Homo sapiens: one gene and its partners. The protein of the gene in region 1 interacts with the protein of each later gene in a biochemical or structural test. Each region holds a gene or a part of one and is shown in the gene's direction. Other genes may lie near its edges. The genes, in order: USP28, MAP3K1, USP20, TRIM55, USP4, HIF1A and USP8.

Region 1 (4,126 bases):
ATTGATTCTTCTGCCTCTGCCTCCCAAGTAGCTGGGATTACAGGCACATGCCACCACGCCTAATTTTTGTATTTTTAGTAGAGACGGGGTTTCACCATGTTGGCCAGGCTGGTCTTGAACACCTGACCTCCGGTGATCCGTCTGCCTTGGCCTCCCAAAGTGCTGGGATTATAGGCGTGAGCCACCGAACCCAGCCTGTGGTTAATTTTAAAAGTTTTTTTAGCAATGGGGTCTCTCTGTGTTGCCCAGGCTGGTCTCAAACTTATGAACCAAGTCATCCTGCCTCAGCCTCCAAAAGTGCTGGGATTACAGGCATGAGCCACCGTGCCTGACCTCAGATGTTAGTATGCCTTATAAGGGCCTCATATGAGATTTATTTTATTTATTCCTTTTCTTTCTTTTGTCTTTTTTTTTTTTTTTTGAGACATGGTCTTACTCTGTCACCTAGGCTGGAGTAGTGCAGTGGCTCTATCATGGCTCACTGCAGCCTCAACCTCCTGGGCCCAAGCAATTCTCCTACCTCAGCCTACAGAGTAGCTGGAACTACAGACATGTGCCACCATGCCTAGCTAATATTTTTAGTTTTTGTAGAGATGGGGGGTCTCTTTATGTTGCCCAGGCTGGTTTTGAACTCCCGCGCTCCAGTGATCCTCCCGCCTGAGCCTCCCAAAGTTTTGGGATTACAGGCGTGAACCATGGTACCTATCTCTTTTTTTCTTTATTCGTATGAGATTTTAAACTGAAGTCTGTTTGCTTCTATCTTACAGATGAGAAATGCAGCTTATGACCATGATTGAATTATAAGTAGCAGAGCTGTGACTTCAAGCCATTCTGACTTGAAGCATAACATTTCTCCGACTTTAGTACAAGCCTTTCTAAAACCAAAGTTTCTGACTTACCACTTGACTATGTAGCACTTTAATAATTTTAATAACTTTTCATTGAACCCTCATAGGCACTCTATGAAATAAAATTTAGTATGAGCAGGAAGTAGAATTTGCAAAGTGACACAGCAAGTAAGTGATAAAACCAAAACTATAACACAGGATATCAGTATTTTTACTGTAAACTCTAGAGGAGTTTAGTTGAACAGGCAAGTCCCAGTATTTTTCATTTCTATTGCATTTCTTCATTTTGCTAACAATTTATTTGCAGTACTTCCTTTGATAGTCATACAGGGCTGTCAAAGCTTTTGGTGTACTTCATTTTCCATTCTGGAAACTGATGCTGAGGAAGATTGAGATTTGCCAGGAGGCTGATGTGTGCTGGAGTCTGGGCTGCATGGCACTATTTCCAGCGTCTAGGCTTTCTACGTAAAACAGGGGTCAAAATATCAGACACACAAAACCAAACTAAAGATCTGCCTCAGTAAGTACCAGCTGCATGCTACATGATGGCTGGTAGGCACTTTAACCCTAAGAAGATTTTCTAAACAACATTTTCTTTTTCAATCTTCTTGCCCAAGTTAGTACTTTCTTGTGTCCCCTCCCTCCCTCCCTTCCTCCCTTTCTTCCTCCCTCCCTTCCTCCCTCCCTCCCTCCCCCCTTCCTTCTTTCCTTTTGTGTGGGGATGTGTATACAGGTTTCCTTATTCATTTGTTTTTTCATAGAGTTGGGGTCTAGCTATGTTGCTCAGGCTGGAGTGCAGTGGCTATTCACAGGCATGATCGTGGTGTACTACTGTTTGAAAATCCTGGGCACAAGTGATCATTCTGCCTCAGCCTGCTGCAGAGCTGGAACTACAGGTGTGTGCCACTGCACCCAGGTGATTTTTTTTTTTTCAATTGAGGCAAAATTTATATAACATAAAATTATTTTAAAGTGGGGCTGGGTGAGGTGGCTCACTGAGGTCAGGAATTCAAGACCAGCCTGGCCAACATGGTGAAGCCCCGTCTCTACTAAAAAATATAAAAATTAGCCAGATGTGGTGGTGAGCACCTGTAATTCCAGCTACTTGGGAGGCTGAGGCAGGAGAATCACTTGAACCCGGGAGGCAGCGGTTGCAGTGAGCGGAGATCATGCCACTGCACTCTAGCCTGAGTGACAAGAGTAAAACTCTGTCTCCAAAAAAAAAAAGTTCAAGTGTACAAGTTCAGTGACATTTAATATATTCACAATATTGTGCAATCACCAATTCCGTCTAGTTCTAAAACATTTTCATTACCCTGAAAGAAAACTTTGTAACCATTAAGCAGTCACTCCCTATTCCCCCATGCCCTCCACCCCTGGCAATACCAATCTACTTTCTGTCTCTAGATTTACGTATTAGAGAGATTTCATGTAAATGGATCATGCAATATGTGACCTATTATGTGTGGCATCTGTCGTTTATTGTAATGTTTTTGAGATTTGTTCAAGTTGTAGCATGTATGAGTTTTTCATTTTAATCACTGAGTAATATTCCACTGTATGTATAGATATGTTTTGCCTGTCCATTCTTCCATTGACGGACATTTGAGTTATTTACACCTTTTGGTTATTATGAATAGTTCTGTTATGAATTTTCATATACTTGTATTTGAGTACCTGTTTTCCCTTCTTTTGGGTATATACCTAGAAGGAATTGTTGACTCATATGGTAATTCTATGTTTAACTTCTTGAGGAACTGCCAGACTGTTTTCCAAGGTTGCTGGGGAAGTTTTATATTCCCACCAGCAATACACAAGGGTTCTAGTTTTTCTCTTTTCTCATCAAACACTTGTTATTTTTTGTTTTTGTTAGATAACAGTCATCCTAATGGGTGTGAAGTGGCATCTCATCATGATTTTGATTTGGCCATGTTAATGTTATGGCTAATGTTAAGTGTCTTCATAAACTTATTGACTATTTATATATCTTCTTTGGAGAAATATCTTTTTAAGTTCTTTGTCCATTTTTGAATTGGGTTGTCTCGTTTTTTGGTTGTTGACTTAAAGGGAGTTCAAAGAGAGTTTTTTATATCATCCAGATGCTAGACTCTTACCAGATAAATGATTTAAAAGTATTTTCTCCCATTGTCTTTTCACTTTCTTGATAATTTGTACACTGTGTATTTCTTTTTTCTTTTTTTTTCCCCAAGACAGAGTCTGGCTCTGTCACCTAGGCTGGAGTGCAGTGGTCTGATCTCGGCTCACTGCAACCTCTGCCTCCTGGGTTCAAGTGATTCTCTTGCTTCAGCCTCCCAGGAAGCTGGGATTACAGGCGCGTGCCAACACACCTGGCTAATATTTGTATTTTTAGTGGAGATGGTTTCACCATGTTGGCCAGGCTGGTCTTGAACTCCTGACCTTAGGTGATCCACATTGGCCTCCCGGAGTGCTCGGATTACAGGCATGAGCCACCGTGCCCGGCCAGCACTGTATATTTCTTGTTGGATTTCTTGATGTATGTGTTTATTTCTTGAATTTGTATACCGGTTGTCTTTTCACTTTCTTGATAATGCCCTTTGATGCAGAAAAGTACATCAGCCCACTTCAGTGTCCCAAGTAGCTGGGACTACAGGTACACACCACCATGCCTGGCTCAAAAGTGTTATTATTTTTTTCTTTTGTTGCTTGTGCTTTTGGTGTCATAGCTGAGAATCCATTGACAAATCCAAGGTCATGAAGACTTATCTCTGTGTTCTAAGAATTTTATAGTTTTAGTTATTTATTTAGGTTGTTGATCCATTTTGAGGAATTTTTGTGTATTGTGTGAGGTAGGGGTCCAGTGTGATTCTTCTGCTGTGGATATCCAGTTGTACCAATACCATTTGTTGAAGACATGATTTTTCCCCCATCAAATGGTGTTGGCACTCTGGTTGAAAATCAGTTGACCACAGATACGAGTTTATTTCTGGATTCTCAGTTCTATTCTGTTGGTCTATATATCTGTCCTTATGCCAGTACTACACTGTTATGATAACCGTAGCTTTGGATTAATACTAAGTTTTGATATAAGAAGTGTGAGTCCTCCAACTTTGTTCTTCTTTTCAATGTTGTTTTAGTTCTTCCAGGTCCTTTGAAATTCTGTGTGAATTTGAGGATCAGCTTTTCTGTTTCTGCAAGAAAGGCCAAAGCATTGCAGCTCTTTTAGAATTTGTCTAGCAGGTTTTCTGGTTTTCACTAGAGTTCCCCGCAACCCCCAGCCACACGCACACACAAAGGAC
Region 2 (4,126 bases), on another chromosome or scaffold:
AGCAATTACAATCTCTTCATTGAATGGATGGCAGGTATGTTAATGTTTTAAATTACAAAATAGTAGTACGTGGATTTAACTTTCTGCAATTTAGGAAAAACCAGTTTAATTAAAATTTATTTCTATCAAATAGTTTGGGTTTCTAAAAACAAATCACCCCAATATATTAGTATGAACCACAAATACTTCGTTTTGTATTTCATTTACTATAAATGAAATATTGACTACCTCTACCTTTTAAATTTTTCCAGTGTGTTTTTAAATGATTGTGTAGCATTGTTGTTTTTAATACTTGATATGTATAAGATATGTATATTTCCAGGTAGCCATGATAAATTGGACAGATGAGGAAGTGTTTTAACATAACAATATACAAACAAAATTAACATATAACTTGAAAACTTACTACAAGTAAACTAGCACTGAAGCATAAAGTTGAACCTTGTCATCTGCTGAAATAAATGAAGACTGAGTTTTATTTTGTATTATACAATGTATACAATAAAATTAATGACCTGATGTGATGAACAGATTGTTTGGTTTAACTTCTTAGATTTGTGTGTGTATTTAAGAGTGCATTTCTCTTTACCAGTCAGTTCTTAAGTATGTTATCTGTTGGTTGGTCTTAATAAAGATTTACACTACAGTAGATAGGTTGACTACTATAAACACTTTTAAAAGCGGCTAAATTTGAGACATGTTCCAGGTCAGAGCTAGTAAATGGTAGAATATGACGCCTAACTCTGGGTTTTCTGTTCCTCCTCCCATTCTTTCCACCTTTTACTACATAATATGTTAACATTGTTTACTTTAGTCATTAATAAAGTTGTTTTGTGTATTTTGAGAAGACAGAGAATTGAATTGTACATTTCAGAAATAGTTTAATCCGAAATTGTTAACTTTTACAGCTTTCTGAAATCTTGACTCTCCAATAAACTGGTTTCCCTGTGGGTTCTGTGAAAATGTCTCCTAATTAGTAGGTTTTTGAGATGATACAGGAATATGTTAGTTTTGAAATGTTTTTCTTCTGTTTCAGATGTGAATGTGAGTTCATGCAGTGAAAACTTTAGAAACCAAAGTGTAATAAATACTTTTAATTCTGTCTTAAGTTTATGATAATTATTTCTATTGTCTTATAGGGGGATCGGTGGCTCATTTGCTGAGTAAATATGGAGCCTTCAAAGAATCAGTAGTTATTAACTACACTGAACAGTTACTCCGTGGCCTTTCGTATCTCCATGAAAACCAAATCATTCACAGAGATGTCAAAGGTGAGAATTCTTCTAATTATTATCTAGTGACAATAAAAAAATTAATTTTAAAATTTGGGGCCAGGCACAGTGGCTCACACCTGTAATCCCAGTACTTTGGGAGGTGAAGGCAGGTGGATCACTTGAGGTCAGGAGCTCGAGACCAGCCAGGCCAACATGGTGAAACCCTGTCTCTACTAAAAATACAAAAATTAACAGGGTAAGGTGGCGCATGCCTGTAATCCTGGCTATTTGGGAGGCTGAGACAGGAGAATTGCTTGAACCCGGAAGGCAGAGGTTGAAGTGAGCTGAGATCACACCACTGCACTCTAGCCTGGGTGACAGAGTGAGACTCTGTCTCAAAGAAGAACAAAAAAATGGACCTTTGTTGATAGTTTCTAACAGTGGGATTTTTTTCTCTGAGTAATTCAGAATATTAGAACTGAAATGAGCCTTAGGGATCATTTAATCTGCCTTCCTCGTTTAATAGAAAAGTACATTGAATACAAGAGAGGCTGTGCCTTTTCTACAGTTTTATTGCTAGTTAATGGCAGAAAGTATACAACACAGGTCTCCAGATTCCCTGTCTTGGCCTCATGATACGCTGACTCCCAGAAAGTTCCTTTTCCTGGTTTTATTTTGAATAATTGGGATATTGGGATATCATCAACTTCTTTTAAGAAAAATTCCTTCAAATCCTTTGTAGGTCCCATTATTTTCCTTATCCTTTTCTTTTTTTTGGAGACAGGTTCTCTGTCACTCAGGCTGGAGTGTAGTGTTGCAAACTTGGCACACTGTAACTCATTTCCTGGGCTCAAGTGATCCTCCCACCTCAGCCTCCCAAGTAGCTAGGACAACAGGTGTGCACCACCATGCCTGGCTAATTTTTTATATTTTTTGTAGAGATGGGGTTTTGCCATGTTGCCCCCAGGCTGGTCTTGAACTCCTGGGCTCAAGCGACCCGCTTGCCTCAGCCTCCCACAGTGCTGAGATTACAGGCGTCAGCCACCGTACCTGGCCTCAGTTTATTTTTCTCAAGAGCAAATTTGGTTTTCTGTCATTAGTCTTTTTAGCTAGTATTTGACATAATGTGTTGAAGTAATTTTATAACTTTTTAAATTAAGCTCTAATTATGAATTTAGCGTACGCTAGAGAGAGCTGTGTGCCTTTAGCAAGAATGAAGTGAAAGGAAAAGAGAATAACTGTTTGCACCTCTGACATGTAGTTCACTTCTTTCTTTTGTCATTGTCCTAGTTCATTAGTATTGTACTGGGCTTTTATCTGTCCTTATTTTTGTTTTTAACATACAAGGTCATTTGCTGTGTTTGTTGACAGGTGCCAATTTGCTAATTGACAGCACTGGTCAGAGACTAAGAATTGCAGATTTTGGAGCTGCAGCCAGGTTGGCATCAAAAGGAACTGGTGCAGGAGAGTTTCAGGGACAATTACTGGGGACAATTGCATTTATGGCACCTGAGGTGAGAAGCATCTTTGAGTGTGATGACAGAAAATATTTTGGAATTCTGTGTAACAGCATTATACTAAATTATCTTGCAGTGGTATCCAGTATGTACTTACCAACTAGAAGTCCGTGGCCCTTAAAATACGGTTTTAATAATATCTTTCAGACCCTTATTCTCGACCTTTCTTTGCCTTGGCAATATTCAAAAAACAGGTTTTAATAGATTTACTTAACGGCTGTTACTAATAAAGAATTCTGGGGTAATTTATAGCAGTTGTTTTGTAATAAACTCAAAGTGCACATAAGAAATTTTTAAAAATATTCTCTCTCTATTCTAAAAGGAGATGAGCATACAGAGGCAGCTCCTGTCTGTAGTGGAAGGAGTTTAAGCATTGTTCTTCTGACTCAGCTTCTTCTGTCGTGTTCATAATTCTTCATGTTCATATGTAGTAATGATCTGTTGTCCTCTTGCCACATAGTTTGCTAAGAGCAAAATTCTGTGATGGGACTCTGCTTCAGAATCTCACAATTCTCCAAAATATTTTTGTGCTACCTGGAAAATTAAGCTCATTAATGAAATAAATTAGATATTAGGTAGTCCACAGAATTCCTGTTTGTACCAGTTTTCTCCCTAAAGTAAGGAAGTAGAATCTATAACTACAAAATGGCCTTCTCTTTTTCAAATGAGTCCTATTTCCAAATTAACTCTGATTTATTTTAGGTACTAAGAGGTCAACAGTATGGAAGGAGCTGTGATGTATGGAGTGTTGGCTGTGCTATTATAGAAATGGCTTGTGCAAAACCACCATGGAATGCAGAAAAACACTCCAATCATCTTGCTTTGATATTTAAGGTAATTGTGAGATAAAAATTACTTCTTTGTGCTAAAAGGAGTACAGCAGAATTTGGCAGGAGGCAAATTTTGATGGGTTCTCCCTAACAATCTAGCATGAAGGTAAATAAATAGTCTGTATATTTATTCAGAGAGGATTTGATATACAAGTTTTTTACTTTAAGATGGTGCAAAAGCAATACAAATTTGGTAAAAACCATACTTTGAATTTTGATTTTTGTCTGAGCTAGCAATATGTGCTATGATACACTGGTGATGCTAGGCAGTGGCAGCGAGTCACAGCTCCCAGTCAGCCACACAATCACGAGAGTGAACAACCAATACTCTATAGTGGACTGTGTTGTCAGATGATTTTGCGGAACAGTAGGCTAATGTAGGTATTATAAGCACATTCAAGGTAGGCCAGACTAAGCTATAATGTTTGGCAGGTTAGGTGTATTAACTGCATTTTCAACTTAAAAAAATATCATCAACTTAAAAGGGGTTTATCACGACATAACCTCAGCGTAAGTTGAAGAGCATCTGTGTATGTGTGTATTTCCAGGAGTTGATATTGTCAAT
Region 3 (4,126 bases), on another chromosome or scaffold:
GCGATCTTGGCTCACTCCAACCTCCGCCTCCCAGGTTCAAGTGATTCTCCTGCCTCAGACTCCTGAGTAGCTGGGATTACAGGCGCCCACCACCACACCTGGCTAATTTATGTATTTTTAGTAGAGACGGGGTTTCACCATGTTGGCCAGGCTGGTCTCAAATTCCTAACCTTGAGTGATCCGCCCGCCTCAGCCTCCCAAAGTGCTGGGATTACAGGTGTGAGCCACTGTGCCCGGCTAACAACAAATATTTAAAGGCAGGAAAGTGGCAGTGCTCTTTGGCTCCAGTGAGCAGTCATGGCTCAATAAATAGAAATTTCAGGAGAGCCAATTTCCATTGATTATAAAGACTTAGGTTTGTAGCAACTAGAGCTGCCCTCTGGGAAAAGGGTGATTTTATCATCAACGACTGCTCAAACTGGGTTTGGAGAACAACCCAGTATGGCTTTTACAGAGCAGAGTTGTGCCTTAAGGGGAAGATGCATGGTTTCTAAACCCCTTTAAACTCTGAGATTGCATGGGGGAAGGCAGCTGCAGATCATGCTGCCTGAAAAGAGAGGATCTGATTTCAGGCCCCAGAAATCATGATTTTCCTAGTTCTTAGTTTCCGCATCTCTAATGTGAGTTTTTTCTAAGGTTTCTAGTCTGAGCTTCGAGACTGAGTTTCTGCTCATGCTTACTCACCACTGAGTGTGAGGCTTTTAATGACCTGGGCCAGTGACTGGCTGCAGCCTAGGGTAGCCCCAAACCCACGCCTTCTCCAATTAAGGGACTCTTCCGGACAGAGCTCAGAGCAAAGGGTAGTAGCAGGCTTTGAGCTGCAGGGAGATACTGTCATATCCTAGACTGAAGGAAGTTAAGCTGAGCAGAAAAATGCTCTGAAGAATGACTCAGAAGAGGCTCTTGTGAGGAAGCTTCCTTGGAGTACGCGTGTTTGGATTTGGGGAGGTGAAGGTCGTCCCCATGCCAGGCTGGCCGGGGCTGTTTGTGACATCGTGGAGCTGAGTGTTCAGAGCATGGGCTTCAGGGCAGGTAGTCGTGGGTTCGAATTTTGGTTCTGCAGCTCAGTAGCTGTGTGACCTTAGCCAGTTATTCCACTTCTCTGAGCCTCGGTGTCTCCATTGTTAGTGATGGAGATGGATTTAGTTTGGAACCTTGCCACCTCCCAGGGTGGTTGTGAGGGTCCAGTGAGGTCACATGTGAGAACACCAGACTAAGATGTTAGTGTCAGTTCCAATATTCAGGGCCGTGGGGCAGGGGGAAGGGCGATGAGGAGACACAGAAGTGTGTGGGCAGCAGAGACTGTGGAAGTGTGGAGGCATGGGGAGGCCTGAGGGCTCTGCTTCGAGAGTCAGAGGATGGTGGCCTCCGAGTGAGGACTGGGTTAAGGGAAGGGGTGGGTGTGTCTGGGACTTAGGGAGAATGCTGTTGTGTGGAGGTAGAGTAAAGACAGCAGGAGGGAGAGAAAGGGTGTGCGAGGGCCAGAGGGGACTGTGGAGGGGGTGGGCACACACCCTGTGCGGGGCTGGGGGTGTGAGATGGCTAATGTGGTTGGGGTCAGCGTGGGCAGGGCTGTGGGCATCGTTGTGTGGGTGGGAGGCCCAGAAGTGTCGCCCTCCCCATCCTGAGGGACTGGTTCCTCGCTGGGAGGAGGAGGATGTAGCCAGAACCTCTGGGAAAACAATGAGTAACAGGCACCAGAGGCAGCCAGGTCCAGATGTGCTGCCTACCTAGGACCACAGGCTGTGCTGGCTGGTCCCTCCCCTGCCCTTCCTCAGGCCTTGCCCCTCCACTTTGCCCCTGTGGGTGGAGTGGCACTTTCCCCCACCCTGGAGGCCCAGGGAAGGAAAGCTGCCTTTATGAGCCTGAAGCATCTTGGAGGTCTCCTGGGGCCAGCAATGGTGGGCTCTTTGCCAAAAGTCTCAGGCCTTCCTCCCCCCATCCTGTGCTCTCCTGCCCCAAGAGAGGAGGCTCTGGTGGGCCGGGAGGGCGGGGCACACGCTGCACCTTGCTGACTTGTTGTACAGTAGGTCCTACTCTGCGTGGCTGCACCTGGAAGCACGTTCTTTCAGCTGCACAGGTGTCTTTCCCTTTTGGCCTTTATGAAATGCCTGCTGTGCACACTCCATATATTTGCACAGAGGCACAGGTGGGACGGAAAGAGTGGGGAAAGCAGACACAACCTGCTCGCTTCCTGCTGTGTTGCTTCCTGTCTGGGACCTTCCATTCCTCCTCTGTGAGATGAGAAACAGCCGCCCTTGCCCTAGAGAGTGGGTGAACAAAGCCCTGGGTACCAGGTCTGGAGGCTCAGTGGGTGCTGGGTCCTGGATCCTGCGATGGGGCTGCCTGTTCCAGAAAACCCGCTCCCTGCTCCCACCTCAAAGGTGAGAAAGGGAATCTATTTTTTTAAAAAGTCAAACTTAAGAAAAATTACAAGAATACAATGAACTCCCACATACCCCTCACCTAGATTCACGAATTAGTAACATTTGCCTTATTTACTCTAACTCTAATCTCTATAGTTATTGTCATAATTATTGCTGATTCAGGTAGGAGTAAGCTGCAGACATCACAGTCCTTTTCCCCTAAATATCCCAGCGGGAATTAACTAAGAATAAGGATATTATCATACATAACCAAAGCGTGAGTTCCACCTTTAGAAACTTTTTTTTTTTTTTTTTTTTTGAGATAGGGTCTTGCTCTTGTCACCCAGGCTGGAGTGCAGTGGCGCCATCTCAGCTCACTGCAACCTCCGCCTCCCAGGTTCAAGTGATTCTTCTACCTCAGCCTCCCGAGTAGCTGGGACTACAGGTGCCCACAACCATGCCCGGCTAATTTTTGTATTTTTAGTAGAGACGGGGTTTCACCACGTTGGCCAGGTTTGTCTCAAACTGCTGACCTCTGGTGATCCGCCAGCCTCAACCTCCCAAAGTGCTGGGATTACAGGCGTGAGCCATCACTCCCGGCCTAGAAACTTTCACATTGATGGAATCATGTATTTGTTTCCCAGACCTGCCATAACAAAGTACCACAGACTGGGTGGCTTAAACGACAGAGATTTATTTTCTCACAGTTCTGGAGGCTAGACGTCTCAGATCAAGGTGCCGACAGGTTTGGTTCTTCTGAAGGCCCTTTCCTTGGCCTGCAGATGGCCATCTTCTCACTGTGTCCTGGCTTGGTCTTTCCTCTGTGTGAGTCCGGATTTTCTCATCTCATAAAGATACCAGTAAGATTAGATTAGGGCCTGCCCTAAAGATCTTATTTTAACTTAATTACCTCTTTAAAGACATTATCTTCAAATATGATTACATTCTCAGGTCCTGGTGGTTAGAACTTCAGCATATGAATGGGGGAGAGAGAACAATTCAGTCCATAACAAATACTATGATCTAACAGGCAGTCCACACTCAGGCATGCTGGTTGTCCTGGGGATGTTCTTTGTGGCATCCCCCCACATTGACCCACAATCCAGCTTTGTTATGTCTCCTCAGTGTCTTGCCTGGAACAGTTTCTCAGCCTTGGTGGAGAAAGGGAACCTTCACGTTGCAGGGAAGCAAAGGTGCTCAGCAGGAATGGGGGTTCAGAAGCGCAGGCTGCCCCAGGACAGGGAAGCTGTTGAAGGGTTTGCTCTAGTCCATGAAGTTGCCTTTCCTGGCTTTTTCTTTGATGTCAAAAGCACCAGGAGGTGAGCTTAGATCTCAGGAAGCGCACCAAGAATCCGTGCATGAGTCCCCTGCGGTGTGTCTGACTCCATCACCATGGCGCCTGTTCGTTGCTGGGCTGGTTGGCCTGCAGAGCCCTGAGTGGTCTCATGGAGGGTGCCCTTCTGAGTGACCTTGAGCATGTGACTTCTATTCCTACCAATTTCAGTGTCCTAATGTATAGAACAGCCAGTGACACAAATTATAGTAGTAAACATTTTTTGAGCATTCTTGTCATGCAAATCAATAAAAAATCTGAGCCACCCAGAAAGTCCATGAGGCCCTAAGTCATTCAACTTAGCGTTTACTGTGCATTGGCTCACTTCATCTTCTCAGTAACCCTAGGTGCTGTCATTGTCCCCATTTTATGAATGTGGAGACTGAGCGATTTATCTAAAGTCACAGACTTGCAAGGGGCAGAGTGA
Region 4 (4,126 bases), on another chromosome or scaffold:
AGAGATGTTAAAACTTGCAGTATTGGTAAAACTACAAAACACATCTTCACCTTAGCTATGAAGTTGGCTTGGTGCAGCTGCCAAAAATAGTACCCAGGCCTGGGAAGTAAATTGCGTAAAAGCAATGAACCAAATTTCCAACAATAAAGCTCATAGTTGAGTGAACTAGGGATGCTTTTGTGATTTTCTGTGATTTTGTTATGCTGTTTTTTCTTGAACTTGAGACTTTCCTGTGGGACAATTTTACTTGGTAGCAAAACCACAAGTTGCACAGAGCACTTGGCCACATGTCTGGGAGGAAACGCAGTTGTCCCCTGGGGGCAGACAGCCTTACTAGACCAGAATCTTGAGCCTCAGGGTACATTAGGTAACACTGGAATGACCTTGGATATACAGAATGAAAAGAGTTCAGCTGTGGCTATTGGAAGGGGGTCGGGGGGGGTGACCAATCACAGACTGGGATGTTGTCAGTCAACTCTGACCTCCTCCAGAAAGGCTGGAGACTGTAAGTCTCCACAAAACCTAGCATTCTTTTTTTTTTTTTTTTTTTGAGATGGAGTTTTGCTTTGTTTCCCAGGCTGGAGTGCAGTGGCGTGATCTTGGCTCACTACAAGCTCTGCCTCCCAGGTTCACGCCATTCTCCTGTCTCAGCCTCCCAAGTAGCTGGGACTACAGGCACCTGCCACCACGCCCAGCTAATTTTTTTGTATTTTTAGTAGAGATGGGGTTTCACCGTGTTAGCCAGGATAGTCTCGATCTCCTGACCTCTTGATCCACCCGCCTCGGCTTCCCAAAGTGCTAGGATTACAGGCATGAGCCACTGCGCCCAGCCAAAACTTGGCATTCTTATCCAGAATTCTGCATGGTGCCAGACTAGCCACAGTTGGGAGTGGGAGATGGTAAGAGAAGGTACTATTTTGGCTAATATTAATAATTAATATAATAATAATTAACTTTAAAATATAACAAGTAAAACTACTATGTGCTGCATGCCAGACACTGTTCAGGGTGCCTAACACATGAATCATGTGCAATTCTTTAATTCTCACAATAATCCGGTGAGGTGTTGATTATTATAATTACTGCTACCCTATTAAAGCTTTTAGTGCCTTAAAGTAATCAACATACACAACTTTTAGAATTCATTACTACTGGGCCTCTGAAGAGAAATGCAGTCTCCACTCTGTTCTCTCTTTACCCACCCCCAAGCCTCATTCCCCAGAGTCAACCACTTTTAATTCTTTTAGCTGTTTTTCTGCTATTTATCACCAATGACATGTGCATACTACTGGTATGCTCCTATTCTTTGATTTTTCAATTTTAGACATTTTCTATTGACTTTCCACTGTAGACAATTAGGACTGAGCCCTCACATGGCTGGGCTTTACCTCTACTTGGGAATTCTTTTACTCTCCCCCTGGGTTGAACCCCTTGCTCCCTGGATTCCAGGTCTCCTTGTTTGGTGGCTTACTCTCTTATTTCTATGGAGCACATCCTCAAGTAATCTCTTAAAACATGCACAAAGTCCTCCTCTTTTCAGCCTCTCCCAGTCTGTCACCGCCTACTTCCACCTTCAGGACTACTGGCTCCTGCAGTTCCAGAGCCTTTCCAGGGTTCCATAGCTCAAGTCAGCTTGCTTATTGTAAGCTTCTCACTGCAGGAATGTAACAGAACTAAGATGCAACTCAAGTAGGTCATGTCCCTTCATCCAGATGTTCCTAATTTCCAACATTTGGTTGACATCTCTCATCTGCTGTCATCTGTGCTCACTTTTTGTCCTTATTGATTTATGCCCTTTTATTTCCTTATCCTCATTTCACTGGGATTTCAGCAGAATAAATACATAAATACATACATACATATATAAATACATAAATAAATACATGCTTGTGTTCATTCTGCCACATTTAATTAGAAGACCCTTAATCTGATATTTGATACGAGTAAAAACTGAGACCAGAAGAGGTTAAGTAACTTGTCTAAGGCCACATAGCCACTACATGGAGAAGCTGAGCTGAAATGAAGCTTTAAGATCAGTTTGGGCAGGCACAGTGGCTCACGCCTATAATCCCAGCACTTTGGGAGGCTGAGGTGGACAGATCACCTGAGGTCAGGAGTTTGAGACCAGCCTGACCAACATGGTGAAACTCCATCTGTACTAAAAATACAAAAAAATTAGCCAGGTGTGGTGGCAGGCACCTGTAATCCCAGCAACTTGGGAGACTGAGGCAAGAGAAATGCTTGAACCCGGGAAGGTGGAGGTTGCGGTGAGCTGAGATTGAGCCATTGCACTCCAGCCTGGGCGACAAGCAAAACTCCATCTCAAAAAAAATATCAGTTTGACTACAAAGTTACTACTTCAATTGCCTCACCAAGACCAGATGCCCACTCCTCAGGAAACTCTAGGGTGGCCCCGGGAACCTCAGAGACCAGAGACAGCAGGCTACATACTTCTCAGTCTAGCCTACACTGAACGGTGAGGGGCCACAGCCAACATTTAGCACTGGGCCCTGACCACAGCTGTGAGCTTGGCTGCTCTCACCTCATAAACATGTATTTATGTCATTCTTTTACATGCCAAATCGGTCCCAAGTCAGTTACATGTTTGAAGTTGTACAGAGGTTTCATTATATGCTCATCTATGAGTAAGTGGTGCCTCTGGGGCTGGGCTACAACCTAAATAAGAAAAACCCAATGAGGAATATGGGAAATTGTTCTCAGTGTATACAGCACCATGAAAAAAATAAATAAATTGAATCACAAACAAAACTAAATGTAGAGCCTTATGGCTGTTTTCACATTTTCAATATTTGCATATACTGCATAGACCTGTGCTCTATGACGCAATCTCTGGTCACAGCTGTTGATATCAGAACAGCATGTGGGACCCAAGCTGCCCACTCTTGCTTAGCCCACATTAATAATAAGGTGGAGATACCTACGAGGGAAGGGTTTAGAGGGGAAGAAGCCTTTGACCAGGCAGAGACCAACTTGCCAGTCCCAACCCCAGAGGGCACTGTCATTTATTAAAGGAGTAATCAGGATGTGGTCTGGTCTCTTCCTCTGCCACTCAGGAGTGCCAGGTGATCCCAGGCTTTCCCCATATTTGCCATGCCTTCTCCAGCTGGGTGGTGTTACACTAGAGCACAGGGAATACTGTCCATTTAATAGGTCAAATTCCCTTTCATTGTCTCACTCATTTGTGCAACAAATATTTATGGAGCCACTGCCTCTGTGCAAGGCACTGTTCCGAGTACTGGAGATGCAGCAAAAAAAAAAAAAGACTCATCATGGCCCCTGCCCTTATGGAGCTGATATTCTAGTGGAGGAAACAGACAGACCTGAGAGGAGGATAATTTTCTCAATTGTGGAGTTGACTTCCTTATTTGAGTTCCAAATAATGTGGTCAAATCAGAAGGTCATAGACTTCATGGAAAGCATATTGCTGCAAGACCAGACAGAAATTCCTTTTGCAACAGTCAGATTCTAAAATTTTGAAACTGGAAGTCCGTGCAATTTTCTTACAAGACCCAGGGCTTCTCCCAATGTTTAGCCTAATCTCAAGTAATTGACGTCCACCTAGCAACTTATAAAGGAACATTAGCGTCTTACAGAGGCACATCAGCACGTTCTCTGCCTTTCTCTGAGTTCTGGGTCTGCAGCTACAAGATACCACACATCAAAAAAGATGGGTTTCAAACACTTGTATTCATGATTTACAGTAGGAAGTGCATTTTACATTGTGACCACTTACATATATGGACGGATATATATACACACACATATGTATATACACACATACACAAACACACACACACACACAAACACACATATACTTTTGTTTCAGTCACATATATACACACGTACACCTGAAACAAAAGTTTCGAACAGCAATACTTATTTTTACTACATGTAATTCACAGTATTTGCTATTCCATTCTATTTTTATTTTAACAATGCAGATCATAGCTCCCTAAATTGATTTCATGGCTCATAAAAACCTGTAGTTTTTAAAAATTGGATCTGTATAGCAACAAAACAAAATGTAGTCCCAAATCTAAGATGTTGCTAAATAACTATGTGTTTGGAAATTTGAAGAAAGCTTCTGGATTTGGATTTGAATTTT
Region 5 (4,126 bases), on another chromosome or scaffold:
GATGGAGATGCATGAGGAGATTAATGTTGTTTCATGCCTACTAAAAACATCCGTTCTGCAGCCTGTGAGTCAAGAAGTAATTTCAACTTTTTTTGTTTGTTTGTTTGTTTGTTTGTTTGTTTTGAGACAGAGTCTCACTCTGTTGCCCAGGCTGGAGTGCAGTGGCTCAGTCTTGGCTCCCTGCAACCTCTCCCTCCCAGGTTCAAGCAATTCTCCTGCCTCCTCCTACCAGGTTCAAGTAATTCTCCTGCCTCAGCCTCCTGAGTAGCTGGGATACAGGTGCCCGTCCCTCCACCTGGCTAATTTTTGTATTTTTAGTAGAGACCAGGTTTCACCATGTTGGCCAGGCTGGTCTCAAACTTCTGACCTCAAGTGATCCTCCCGCCTCAGCCTGCCGAAGTGCTGGGATTACAGGCCTGAGCCAGCGTGCCTGATTTGATTTCAACTTTCAAGTCTTATTATTTAAGAAATACATTTTATAAGACTTTATCTGCCATAGATAGTGATTCTCCTGAAGGATCTGGGCAAATTAAATTGAAAACCTTTTGGAAAGGATTTACCATTCTAGATGCCATTAAGAATATTCATGATTCCACCTGGTGCAGTGGCTTATACCTATAATCCCAGGACTTTGGCAGGCTGAAGTAGGTGGATCCTTTGAACCCAGGAATTGGAGACTAGGGTGGGCAACTTGGCAAAACCCCATCCCTATAAAAAATACGAAAATTAGCTAGGCCTGGTGGCATGCACCTGTAGTTCTAGCTACTTGGGAGACTAAGGCAGGAGGATTGCTTGAGTCTGGGAGGTCGAAGCTGCAGTGAGCTGTAATCATGCCACTGCACTTCAGCCTGGGTGATAGAGTAAGGCCTGCCACTCCCACCTGCCCACACACACACACAAAAATATTCATGATTCATGGGAGGTCAAAATCAACATTAATAGGAGTCTGGAAGAAGTTCATTCCAACACTTACGGATGACTTCAACGGGCTCAAGACATCAGTGGGAGAAGTAACAGCAAAAGTGGAAATAGCAAGAGAACTAGAATTAGAAGTGAAGCCTGAAGATGTGACTGAATTGCTTTATTTTTTATTTTTACTTTTATTTTTATTTTTTTTGAGATGGAGTTTCGCTGTGTCACCCAGGCTGGAGTGCAGTGGCGCAATCTTGGCTCACTGCAACCTCCGCCTCCTGGGTTCAAACAATTCTCCTGCCTCAGCCTCCCAAGTAGCTGGGCTACAGGTGTGCACCACCATGCCCAGCTAATTTTTGTGTTTGTAGTAGAGACGGGGTTTCACTACCCTGGCCAGGCTGGTCTTGAACTCCTGACCTCATGATCTGCCCACCTCGGCCTCCGAAAGTGCTGGGATTACAGGTGTGAGCCACTGCGCCTGGCCTATTTTTAATTTTAATTTTTATTTATTTTTATTTCTTTTGAGACAGAGTCTTGCTCTGTCACCCAGGCTGGAGTACAGTGGGGTATCTCGGCTCACTGCAGTCTCCACCTCCTGGGTTCAAGCAATTCTTATGCCTCAGCCTCCCGAGTAGCTGGGACTACAGGCATGCATCACCATGCCCAGCTAATTTTTGTATTTTTACTAGAAATGGGGTTTCACCATGTTGGCCAGGCTGATCTTGAATTCCTGACCTCAAGTGATCTGCCTGCCTCAGCCTCCCAAAGTGCTGGAATTACAGGCATGAGCCAACATGCCCGGCCTGAATTGCTTTAATCTTATGATAAAACTTGAATGGCTGAGGAGTTGCTTCTTATGGGTGAGCAAAGAAAATGGTTTCTTGAGATGGAATCTATGTCTGGTGAAGATGTTATGAGCATTGTTGAAATGACAACAAAGGAACCCTGCCCTGAAAAAGGTGTGTAAACTAGTCGGAGGGATGGTGGGAAACCATAACCACCTCATGTATGATTTATTTATTTTTGAGATGGAGTCTTGCTCTTTCACCAGGCTGGAGTGCAGTGGCGTGATCTTGGCTTACTGCAACCTCTGCCTCCCGGGTTCAAGCAATTCTCCTGCCTCAGCCTCCCGAGTAGCTGGGACTACAGGTGCCCGCTACCACACCCGGCTAATTTTTATATTTTTAGTAGAGACGGGGTTTCACCATGTTGGCCAGGCTGCTCTCAAACTCCTGACCTCATGATCCAACCGCCTCAGCCTCCGAAAGTGCTGATTACAGGTGTGAGCCACCACACCCAGCCTGGAGTTTTTCTTTTTTATCCTCTTCTCTCCCTCCAATTATAGAAGAAATACAAATTCCTCATAAAATCTTCATGGATAAAGAGAAAACATGGATAAAGACAAAAGTCTGCTCTGTATAATGACCAGTGACAGAATTTTGGAATTTCATTCCTGTTTCTTTCTGTAAATAATTTTCTTATTTCTGAAAAGTACATGGAAATCATGTAAAACCATCATTTCTGGGGTAAAGAGCAGTGACTTATGTGCTCTTTTCCTTTTTTAGATCCTGAGAGTCAGACCTTGAAAGAACACTTAATTGATGAATTGGACTATGTATTGGTCCCTACCGAGGCGTGGAATAAACTACTAAACTGGTACGGCTGTGTAGAAGGCCAGCAACCCATCGTCAGAAAAGTGAGTTATGTGAATTGTCCCACCTGCTGGTCACTGTCTGCAGGTGCTTTCTGTTGGACACTGACTAGTGTTTGCTAGGAAAATGAACATACCTCAGTGGTTGAATAGTGGTGCTTGAGGCCTTGTTTCTGGATCTCTTTTTTTTTTGAGATGGAGTCTTGTGCACTTGTCGCCCAGGCTGGAGTGCAACGGCACGATCTCGGCTCACTGCAGCCTCTGGCTCCCAGGTTCAAGTGATTCTCGTGCCTCAGCCTCCTGAGTAGCTGGGATTACAGGCGCCTTTCACTACGCCTGGCCAATTTTTGTATTTTTAGTAGAGACGGGGTTTCGCCATGTTGGCCAGTCTGGTCTCAAACTCTTGACCTTGTGATCCGCCCGACTCGGCCCCCCAAAGTGGTGGGATTACAGGCGTGAGCCACTACGCCCAGCCTGTTTCTGGTTCTCTTTAGGAAATTGTGGTTGTGAGTGAAGTTGCTCACCCAGAATATTATCATGAGTGGCCTCTAAACATCAGAGCTGCCCAGTGGCTTGGAATGTGCCCAGCAGCGCTGTGAGAGAACTTTCTGGAAAATTCTATGAGAGAAAGTTCACTGGGGGCATATGGACATATAGCTAATGTCCTGCATCTTGTTTATCTTAAAAAACCTTTATGATACTGCTTTTCCCTCTATGCTTAAGAGTCTTTGAGCTAGGCGCAGTGGCTCACATCTGTAATCCCAGCACTTTGGGAGGTTGAGGCGGGTGGATCACGAGGTCAGGAGATCAAGACCACCCTGGCCAACATGGTGAAACCTCGTCTCTGCTAAAAATCCAAAAATTAACTGGGTGTGGTGGCACATACCTGTAGTCCCAGCTACTCGGGAGGCTGAGGCAGGAGAATTGCTTGAACCCAGGAGACGGAGGTTGCAGTAAGCCGAGATCACCCCACTGTACTGCAGCCTGGCAACAGAGTGAGACTCGGTTGCAAAAAAAAAAAAAGAGTCTTTGATCAGGCCGTGCATGGTGGCTCACGCCTGTAATCCCAGCACTTTGGGAGGCTGAGGCAGGCGGATCACGAGGTTAAGAGATCGAGACCATCCTGGCCAACATGGTGAAATCCTGTCTCTACTAAAAATACAAAAATTAGCTGGGCATGATGGTGGGCCCCTGTAGTCCCAGCTACTCGGGAGGCTGAGGCAGGAGAATCTCTTGAACCCAGGAGGTGCAGGTTGTAATGAGCTGAGATCGCACCACTGCACTCCAGGCTGCTGACGGAGGAAGACTCCATCTCAAAAACAAAAAACAGTGAAGAATAGGCTTCTCTCTAATATCATCAAGATGCTCTTGGTCTTAGTGGGTAGAAAAAAAATATATATATATTTTTTTGCGGGGTACAGAGTCTCGCTCTGTCGCCCAGGCTGGAGTGCAGTGGAGCGATCTTGGCTCACTGCAGCCTCCACCTCCTGGGTTCAAGCGATTCCCCTGTCTCAGCCTCCTGAGTAGTTGGGATTACAGGCACATGCCACCATGCCCGGCTAA
Region 6 (4,126 bases), on another chromosome or scaffold:
AAGCATTATCTTGTGTGACAAACAATCCAGTTATACTCTTTTGGTTATTTTTATTTTATTTTATTTTATTTTTTTCTTTTGAGACAGGATCTCACTCTCGCCCAGGCTGGAGTGCAGTGGAGCAATCTCAGCTCACTGCAACCCCCGCCTACCGGGTTCAAGAGATTCTCCTGCCTCATCCTCCCAAGTAGCTGGGATTATAAGCATGTACCACCATGCCTGGCTAATTTTTGTATTTTTAGTATAGACAGGGTTTTGCCATGTTGGCCAGGCTGGTCTCGAACTCCTGACCTCAGGTTATCCACCTGCCTTGGCACCCGGCCTCTTTTAGTTTCTTTAAAATGTACAATTAAATTATTTTTTACTATAGTCACCCAAAACAAGTACCTTTGACATAAGATTTGATTCTGAATTTTACTCAAATGAATGTTAAGATCCCCAAGATAAGTTAAACTTTGGACTATCTCACCTGTTTAATCTGTACCTATGCATGACTTCCCACTGTGCTTGAGGATACCTGAATATCACTGAGTTTGTGTGACTGATCAGCCTTGAACTCAAGAGTAAATCCAAGTCTGCAGTCAGGACACCCCAATCCTCAAAATAATACCATCATTAGCATTTATTTAGTACTTTCTCCCAAATCAGTATTTAATTTAAATTGCCAAAAGACTTACAATGTGGTATCAATTTATATTTAAATATGCTACATATAGCTTTTTAAAGCATCTTTGGTTCTCTGGAAACCATAGTCAGAATTTAAGGAAGTTATTGTGGCACCATTTTCTTGAAAAAGGCTATTGATTATTCTCTAATCTGACACCAACCTAAGTCATTAAAGGAATTTTAGTTACTGAAGATTGTATATTCATGAACTCTTCACTTAGCTCACTGGCAGCAAAGGAGTTTTATTTAGGGGGTTTGAAAAAGGAAATGGGTACATTTTCAGCTATTCTGGGACGCACTGTCAGAATGTAAGCAGTTACAACTGATTCCACTAAATAAACATTTGTTTTCCAAAACAATGATGAACATTCAGCATCTGTTCATTTAATTGAAAATTCAAAGTTAAAATATTTTCTCTGCATGATTCTTTTTCTTTTCCCCCCTAGTGTTTACTAAAGGACAAGTCACCACAGGACAGTACAGGATGCTTGCCAAAAGAGGTGGATATGTCTGGGTTGAAACTCAAGCAACTGTCATATATAACACCAAGAATTCTCAACCACAGTGCATTGTATGTGTGAATTACGTTGTGAGGTAAGTAAGTTTGAGAAATAAACATTTTTGGGGAACAAATAGTAATTCTTTTTGGATACTCTGTTCATTTATAGGAAGATAAGATAATAAATATTAACTAAATTTTAATTCTTTTACATCGCTACCAAATTATTATTTTCTATACTCTGACCTAGGTTTCCAGTCCAGCTATTCCACAGTGATGCTGCTAAACACTGTCAGTAGTTGTCTATCCCCATACCTTCACTCCTATTTTTAAAAAGACCATGAAAAAAATACCAGATCCATTGATTGGTTTGGTCTAATTATACAGATATCGGCATATACTATCTCAAGACAGCTGTGTTCTTTTTGTAGGAAGAATCCTGGCCTAGATTTGTATCATAGCTCTACCACTCATTAGCTCCCTGACCTTGGGGAAGTCTCTTCATTTTTCTGAATTTCATCTATGTAGATAATCCTTCAGAAGGTTATAATGAAAATTAAATGAAATTCTATGAGATTAGGGAGGGGGGAGGGATAGCATTAGGAGATATACTTAATGTGAATGATGAGTTAATGGATGTAGCACACCAACATGGCACATGTATACATATGTAACAAACCTGCACGTTGTGCACATGCACCCTAGAACTTAAAGTATAATTTAAAAAAGAAAAGAAATTCTATGAGATTAATAAGCTATATGATGTAATACATGGCTCTTGTATATTCATGAACTCTTCACTTAGCTCTTTGGCTTGTGAATATTATGTACATCAAAATTTAATTTTTCATTTGATCTATTTTACTAGACTCCTGCCCCATCTAGTCTACCTGTCCACATTATTACCACATTCTAGTCCATCTTGCCCATTACTACCAGGCTAAGCTTTCTAGTGTGGATATGTCATCATCTTATTTTCCTTAGAATTTTAGCGATCTTTTTATCATTTCCAAGATAAACACTTGCCTAGGTGTACAGCATCCTTGTTTACCATCATACTCACGCATTAGAGATTTAGCCTTCCCTTTAAAATCTAGGGTCACTCCTCTTAGGAAGACTTTGGGCAGTTTTTATTTTTGCTACTTCTGACACCATCCTTTAATGTTTTAATATTAGTGCCACAGAGTTCTTTTGTGACTTTACCATTATGTAAGAATCTTCCACTTGGAATGTCTTTCTCTTCCTCACACCCCAGTCTGCCTAGCAAATGCCACTTGATCCCAAGTATCAGCTTGTTAGCTTCTCAGTGAAGCAAGCCTTCTCTATTTTAGCAGTTATCACAGTGTATTTTAATTGTTTACATATCTACTTTCACAATGGGTTATAAATTTCTTAAGGTCAAGGGTTGGCTATTTTAATCTTTGCATTATCAGTTCATTTCAGATAGTGAACATTTAATACGTTAATTAAAGGAATAATTTACATTTAAGCCAAACGTGAAGATAAACTATTGCTCATCATCCCTCTTCAGCCGTATCCTGTAGGTGGTATCACCTTATATTCTTACCACCAAAGAAAATATGGCCCCTCTCTTAGAAAGATCTTAATCATTTATCTGTGTATCTTTAGGACTATCCTTAGATCATGCCTCACATATTGATGCCAAAGAGTTCTTTTGTGCCAATTTCATAATGTGTGTCAGCACAACAATTCTGAAGATTTGTTGGTGTCTTTCATGTACTTGACTACAAATTGCCTTGCCATTACTACTCTTCTCAAAGGATATCTGAAATTCTTTTTTTCTTTTTTTTTTTTGAGATGGAGTCTCACTGTCACCCAGGCTGGAGTGCAGTGGCGTGATCTTGGCTCACTCCATTTCCCGAGCTCAAGTGATTCTCATGCCTCAGCCTCCCAAGTAGCTGGGACTACAGGTGTGCACCACCACACCGGGCTAATTTTTTGTATTTTTAGTAGAGACAGGGTTTTGCCATGTTGGCCAGGCTCTTGAACTCCCAGGCTCAAGCGATCCACCCGCCTCAGCCTCCCAAAGTCCTGGGATTACAGGCATGAGCCACCACGCCCAGCCTGGATATCTGAAATTCTTAACTGAAATTAGTCAAATTATCTTGTACTGGGGATTTTTTTTTTAATTTCAACTTTTATTTTTGATTCAGGGGATACATGCATAGGTTTGTTACATGGGTATATCATGTGATGCTGAGGTTTGGGGTACAATTGATCCTGTCACCCAGGTAGTGAGCATAATACCCAACAGTTGTTCAACCCTTGCCCCTCTCCCCTAGTAGTCCTCAGTGTCTATTGATGCCATCTTTATGTCCACAAGTAACCCAGTGTTTAGCTCCCACTTACAAGTGAGAACATGCAGCATTTGGTTTTCTGTTCCTGGGTTATCTCACTTAGGATAATGGTCTCTGGATGCATCCATGTTGCTGCAAAGGACATTATTTCATTCTTTTTTATGGTTGCATACTGTGGATTTTATTGGGTCTTTATTTTGTATTAGCATTTTAAAACCCTAAATGTGACACAGTACGCATGAGTGATCATGCATCTCAAGAAATCTTGAAATGTTCCTGTCCATAAAGCAGAATTTTTTAAGAGACCATTTCACAGTCTCCCTTCCCCTCACTGTATCAAGTGCTCATTTGTGAATTACCAATTTCTCTTGTTTTGACAGTGGTATTATTCAGCACGACTTGATTTTCTCCCTTCAACAAACAGAATGTGTCCTTAAACCGGTTGAATCTTCAGATATGAAAATGACTCAGCTATTCACCAAAGTTGAATCAGAAGATACAAGTAGCCTCTTTGACAAACTTAAGAAGGAACCTGATGCTTTAACTTTGCTGGCCCCAGCCGCTGGAGACACAATCATATCTTTAGATTTTGGCAGCAACGGTGAGTAGTTATTTTTGTTAATCCCCTAAATTGTGTCTGTTG
Region 7 (4,126 bases), on another chromosome or scaffold:
TCACCATGTTGGCCAGGATGATCTTGATCTCTTGACCTGTGATCCACCTGCCTCAACCTCCGAAAGTGCTGGAATTACAGGCGTGAGCCACCGCGCCTGACCCATTTCCAATTTCTTTAACCGTAATACTTTATGTTGTAATGGCATATTACAGTTTTCAAAGCATGTTTTTGTATATTTTTTCACTTGATACCTATGGTCACCCTATAGAAGCAGACAAATAGTTCCTATTTCATTTTGCAGATGAAAGTAAACTGAAGAGTGGTGGTGGTATTGGGAGTGATTTACGGAATTTGTTCAAAGTCATATGATTAATAAATGGAAAGTAAGGCCTGCAACAGTTCCATAATATTAAATTTATTAGTACTGAATGATGAAATATTATATTAAACTTATTTGGAATTCTACATTTATAGCCGTACTAATTTTTTTTTTTTTTTTTTTTTTGAGACGGAGTCTTGCTCTGTCTTCTAGGCTGGAGTGCAGTGGTGAGTTCTCGGCTCACTGAAATGTCCGCCTCCTGGGTTTAAGCAATTCTGCTTCAGCCTCCCGAGTAGCTGGGACTATAGGCACCTGCCACCATGCCCGGCTAATTTTTGTATTTTAGTAGAGATGGGGTTTTGCCATGTTGGCCAGGCTGGTCTTGAACTCCTGACCTCAGGTGATCTGCCCGCCTCAGCCTCCCAAAGTGCTGGGATTATAGCCGTGAGCCACCATACCTGGCCCTTTTTTTTTTTAAACTGAGACAAGGTCTTGCTCTGTCACCCAGGCTGGAGTGCAGTGGCATGACCTTGGCTCACTGTAACCTCTGCTTCCTGGGCTCAAGTGATCCTCCTGCCTCAGCCTCCCAAGTAGCTAGGACTGCAGGCACACGCCAGCACACCTGACTAATACCATACTAATTCAAGTAAAACAGTTCTCATGTATAGTGAATAAGGGTTAACTAAGCCTTGTCTCTTTTGACTAACACATTACAATTTAGTTTTTTGTTTGTTTGTTTTTGAGAGGGAGTCTTGCTCTGTCACCTAGGCTGGATGCAGTGGCATGATCTCGGCTCACTGCACCCTCCGTCTGATGGGTTCAAGCAATTCTCCTGCCTCAGCCTCCCAAGTAGCTGGGATCACAGGCATATGCCGCCACGCCCAGCTAATTTTTTGTGTTTTAGTAGAGATGGGGTTTCACTGTGTTGCCCAGGCTGGTCACGAACTCCTGAGCTCAGGCAATCCACCTGCCTCGGCCTCCCAAAGTGCTGGGATTACAGGCGTTAGCTACCACGCCGGGCCTACAATTTAGTTTTTAATAATGCAGCAGTCTTCCTCTTATCTGCAGGGGATATGTTTCAAGACCTCCAATGAATGCCTGAAACCACAGATAGTACTGAACCCTATATATACTATGTTTTCCCTATATATACATTTTTATGATAAAGTTTAACTTATAAATTAGTAACAAGAGATTAACAACAATAACTAATAATAAAATAGAATAATTACAACAATATAGTGTAATAAAAGTTATGCCCTGTGGCCATAACTTGTGCAACTTGAGGTGTGACAGCAAAACTAGCACAAATTTCTTTTTCCTTCATAATTTTGCAGATAAAAGATCTTACCATAGATCTTAGCAACCTCAGCATGAGGTTTTTGGTTTTTTTTCTTATTAGGTTGAGAACTTTCACCTTTTTGCTTAAAGGAAGCAGTTTACAACTTCTTTTTGACATACGTGAATCTCTGCTTTTACACTTTGAAGCCATGATTAAGTAAAATGAGGGTTACTTGAACACAAGCACTGTAATACTGCTATAGTCAGTCTGGTAACTGAGACGGCCACTTAGTGATTAACAGGCAGGTAGCATCTACAGTGTGGATACACTGGACAAAGGGATGATTCATGTCACAGACTGGGCGAAGTGAGGTGGTGCACAATTTAAAACTTATGAATTGTTTATTTCTGGAATTTTTTATTTAATATTCTTGGACTGTGGTTGACTGCAAGTAGCTGAAACCATGGAAAGCGAAACCATGGATAAGGGGGGACTACTACACTAAATTCTGAAACATACCAATAATGGTGTAAACCCACATGTCTTTTTAATAGAGTAAAATGAAATAATTACACATTATAATACCAATTTCAGAACAAGAGTTATGGGCATAAGCATCCTGGAGGTGTTTTTTTTTTTTTTTTTGGAGGTGTTATTTTAATTTCTCAATTACAGAGTTTTAAAAATGAAAATGATTTTTTAAAATTTTGGTAGGTTGAATGATTTAAGATGCTGATTTCAGCTGGAAACAAATTGTTGCCTTCATATTATTTTGTTGCTCCTAGCAGCATGTTTATATTCATTCTTATATTGATGGTTCCCAGTCTTGACTGGTGTTAGAATTCATTTGGGAAGCTTTTTAAAAATACCTATGTGGGCAAGGCGAGGTTGGCTCATGCCTGTAATCCCAGCACTTTGGGAGACCTAGGCAGGAGGATCACTTGAGCCCAAGAGTTTGAGACTATCCTGGACAACATAGTGAGACTCTGTATTTTTTTAAATATATAAATAAGAAAATAAATACCTGTGTGTATGTCTCATCCATAGAGATTCTGATTTAATTGTTTAGGAGTGGGATCTGAGCATCAATATTTTTTTAAAGTTCTCTAGGTAACTGATTCTAACATACAGCTGGGATTGAGAACTATGTTTTTGGTGCATGTTAAGTACGATCTGGCTCCCTACTTAATGATTTTGCATCTGTTAAAAAATTAATGAGGTAGAAGACAAAAGAAATGGATTAAAGTTATAAATGTAGATAGACATCTATTCTGGAAAACAGTTACCCTTTTGTTAGTTTCTGGGAATGGTCCTTAATAAAACAAACAGACATTGGCCTGGTTTGCTAAGTGCCTATATCACAGCATTAAGCCACACTTTACTTTGTTACCGTTATGTACTTAACTTTCATTTTAAGAGGCAGAAACTTTATTAAGAGTTGTATTTTTTTAGTATCCCCTGTATCACAACACTGCACCTTGTGTATAGTAGGTATCTATTGTTTACCTAATTGAAGCCAGTTTAGACAGTCACTCTTTAGAACTAGGGCTAGTTCAGCTCCTTGGGAGGCTGAGGCAAGAGAATCGCTTGAACCGGGGAGGTGGAGGTTTTGGTGAGCCGAGATTGCGCCACTGCTCTCCAGCCTGGACAGCAGAGTGAGACGTCATCTCAAAAAAATAAAGAACTAGGGCTAGTTTATTCTTTTCTTTTCTTTTTTTCTCATGGCATTCTAAGACTCCCCCAATTAGACAGGGTCTCCCTCTATTGCTCAGGCTGGAGTGCAATGGTGTAATCATGGTTCATTGCAAGCTCAACCTCCCAGGCTCAAGGAAGGCCTCAGCCTTCCGAGAAGCTGGGACCACAGGCGCATGCCACCATGCCCTGCTAATTTTTTATTTTTTTATTTTTTTTTTGTAGTGATAAGGTCTCACTGTGTTGCCCAGCAGTTCACCAAATCCTAGATAACATAATTTTGGTGTCAATACTTAATTATCTTCCAAAACAATAGGGATTATCAAAGTCAACATTGATGCCTTATTAGTTGATAAACAGATTTAATATCTGTCTGCTCTCACATATAACTGATTTCTAGTTAATATTTACATCTTAAGATGTTCCTTTGGCATACACTCAACATTTTCCACATCGAATTACCTACTTTGCTGTAAACCAGTGGTTCTTGTTGGGGGTAATTTTGCCTTCCAGGACACATTCGGCAATGACTGTAGACAGTTTTGGTTGTTACAACTGGAAGGGAAGGATGATAGTAAACTGGCGTCTAGTAGAGGTTAGGGATGCTGCTAAACATCCTGCAGTGCACATTGCACAGAGCAGCCTCTCACAACAAATGTTTATCTGGTCCAAAATGTGAGTGATGGCAAGGTTGAGAAACGCTGCTGTAAACTGATCAGTTTTAAACTGCAGTATTACTTTTTTTGTTAATAGCACTACTGCTCTTCATATTTTGCAGGGTACAGTGTGTGTGCCTCTGTGTGTGTGTGTGTGTGTGTGTGTAAGCAAGAGAAAATACTGTTTCGATCAACCAGTTACCAAAGCATGTTTCTACCATTTTGTGTTCTTTTC

What was found.
Region 2: of the proteins of USP28 (region 1) and MAP3K1, one has a biochemical effect on the other in vitro, tested with the Homo sapiens proteins (one large-scale study listed by BioGRID).
Region 3: of the proteins of USP28 (region 1) and USP20, one has a biochemical effect on the other in vitro, tested with the Homo sapiens proteins (one large-scale study listed by BioGRID).
Region 4: of the proteins of USP28 (region 1) and TRIM55, one has a biochemical effect on the other in vitro, tested with the Homo sapiens proteins (one large-scale study listed by BioGRID).
Region 5: of the proteins of USP28 (region 1) and USP4, one has a biochemical effect on the other in vitro, tested with the Homo sapiens proteins (one large-scale study listed by BioGRID).
Region 6: of the proteins of USP28 (region 1) and HIF1A, one has a biochemical effect on the other in vitro, tested with the Homo sapiens proteins (one study listed by BioGRID).
Region 7: of the proteins of USP28 (region 1) and USP8, one has a biochemical effect on the other in vitro, tested with the Homo sapiens proteins (one large-scale study listed by BioGRID).

The regions. Positions count from the first base shown.
Region 1 is NC_000011.10:113,865,221-113,869,346, reverse strand, and holds part of USP28 (ubiquitin carboxyl-terminal hydrolase 28), read left to right. Parts: intron 1-4,033; exon of another isoform or gene 4,034-4,095; intron 4,096-4,126. UniProt on the Homo sapiens protein: Deubiquitinase involved in DNA damage response checkpoint and MYC proto-oncogene stability. Involved in DNA damage induced apoptosis by specifically deubiquitinating proteins of the DNA damage pathway such as CLSPN.
Region 2 is NC_000005.10:56,884,793-56,888,918, forward strand, and holds part of MAP3K1 (mitogen-activated protein kinase kinase kinase 1), read left to right. Parts: coding exon 1-34; intron 35-1,139; coding exon 1,140-1,271; intron 1,272-2,585; coding exon 2,586-2,728; intron 2,729-3,433; coding exon 3,434-3,565; intron 3,566-4,126. UniProt on the Homo sapiens protein: Component of a protein kinase signal transduction cascade. Activates the ERK and JNK kinase pathways by phosphorylation of MAP2K1 and MAP2K4. May phosphorylate the MAPK8/JNK1 kinase.
Region 3 is NC_000009.12:129,838,103-129,842,228, forward strand, and holds part of USP20 (ubiquitin carboxyl-terminal hydrolase 20), read left to right. Parts: intron 1-4,126.
Region 4 is NC_000008.11:66,130,129-66,134,254, forward strand, and holds part of TRIM55 (tripartite motif-containing protein 55), read left to right. Parts: intron 1-4,126. UniProt on the Homo sapiens protein: E3 ubiquitin ligase that plays an important role in regulating cardiac development and contractility, muscle growth, metabolism, and fiber-type differentiation.
Region 5 is NC_000003.12:49,326,168-49,330,293, reverse strand, and holds part of USP4 (ubiquitin carboxyl-terminal hydrolase 4), read left to right. Parts: intron 1-2,477; coding exon 2,478-2,608; intron 2,609-4,126.
Region 6 is NC_000014.9:61,733,026-61,737,151, forward strand, and holds part of HIF1A (hypoxia-inducible factor 1-alpha), read left to right. Parts: intron 1-1,112; coding exon 1,113-1,260; intron 1,261-3,863; coding exon 3,864-4,084; intron 4,085-4,126.
Region 7 is NC_000015.10:50,427,134-50,431,259, forward strand, and holds part of USP8 (ubiquitin carboxyl-terminal hydrolase 8), read left to right. Parts: intron 1-4,126. UniProt on the Homo sapiens protein: Hydrolase that can remove conjugated ubiquitin from proteins and therefore plays an important regulatory role at the level of protein turnover by preventing degradation. Converts both 'Lys-48' an 'Lys-63'-linked ubiquitin chains.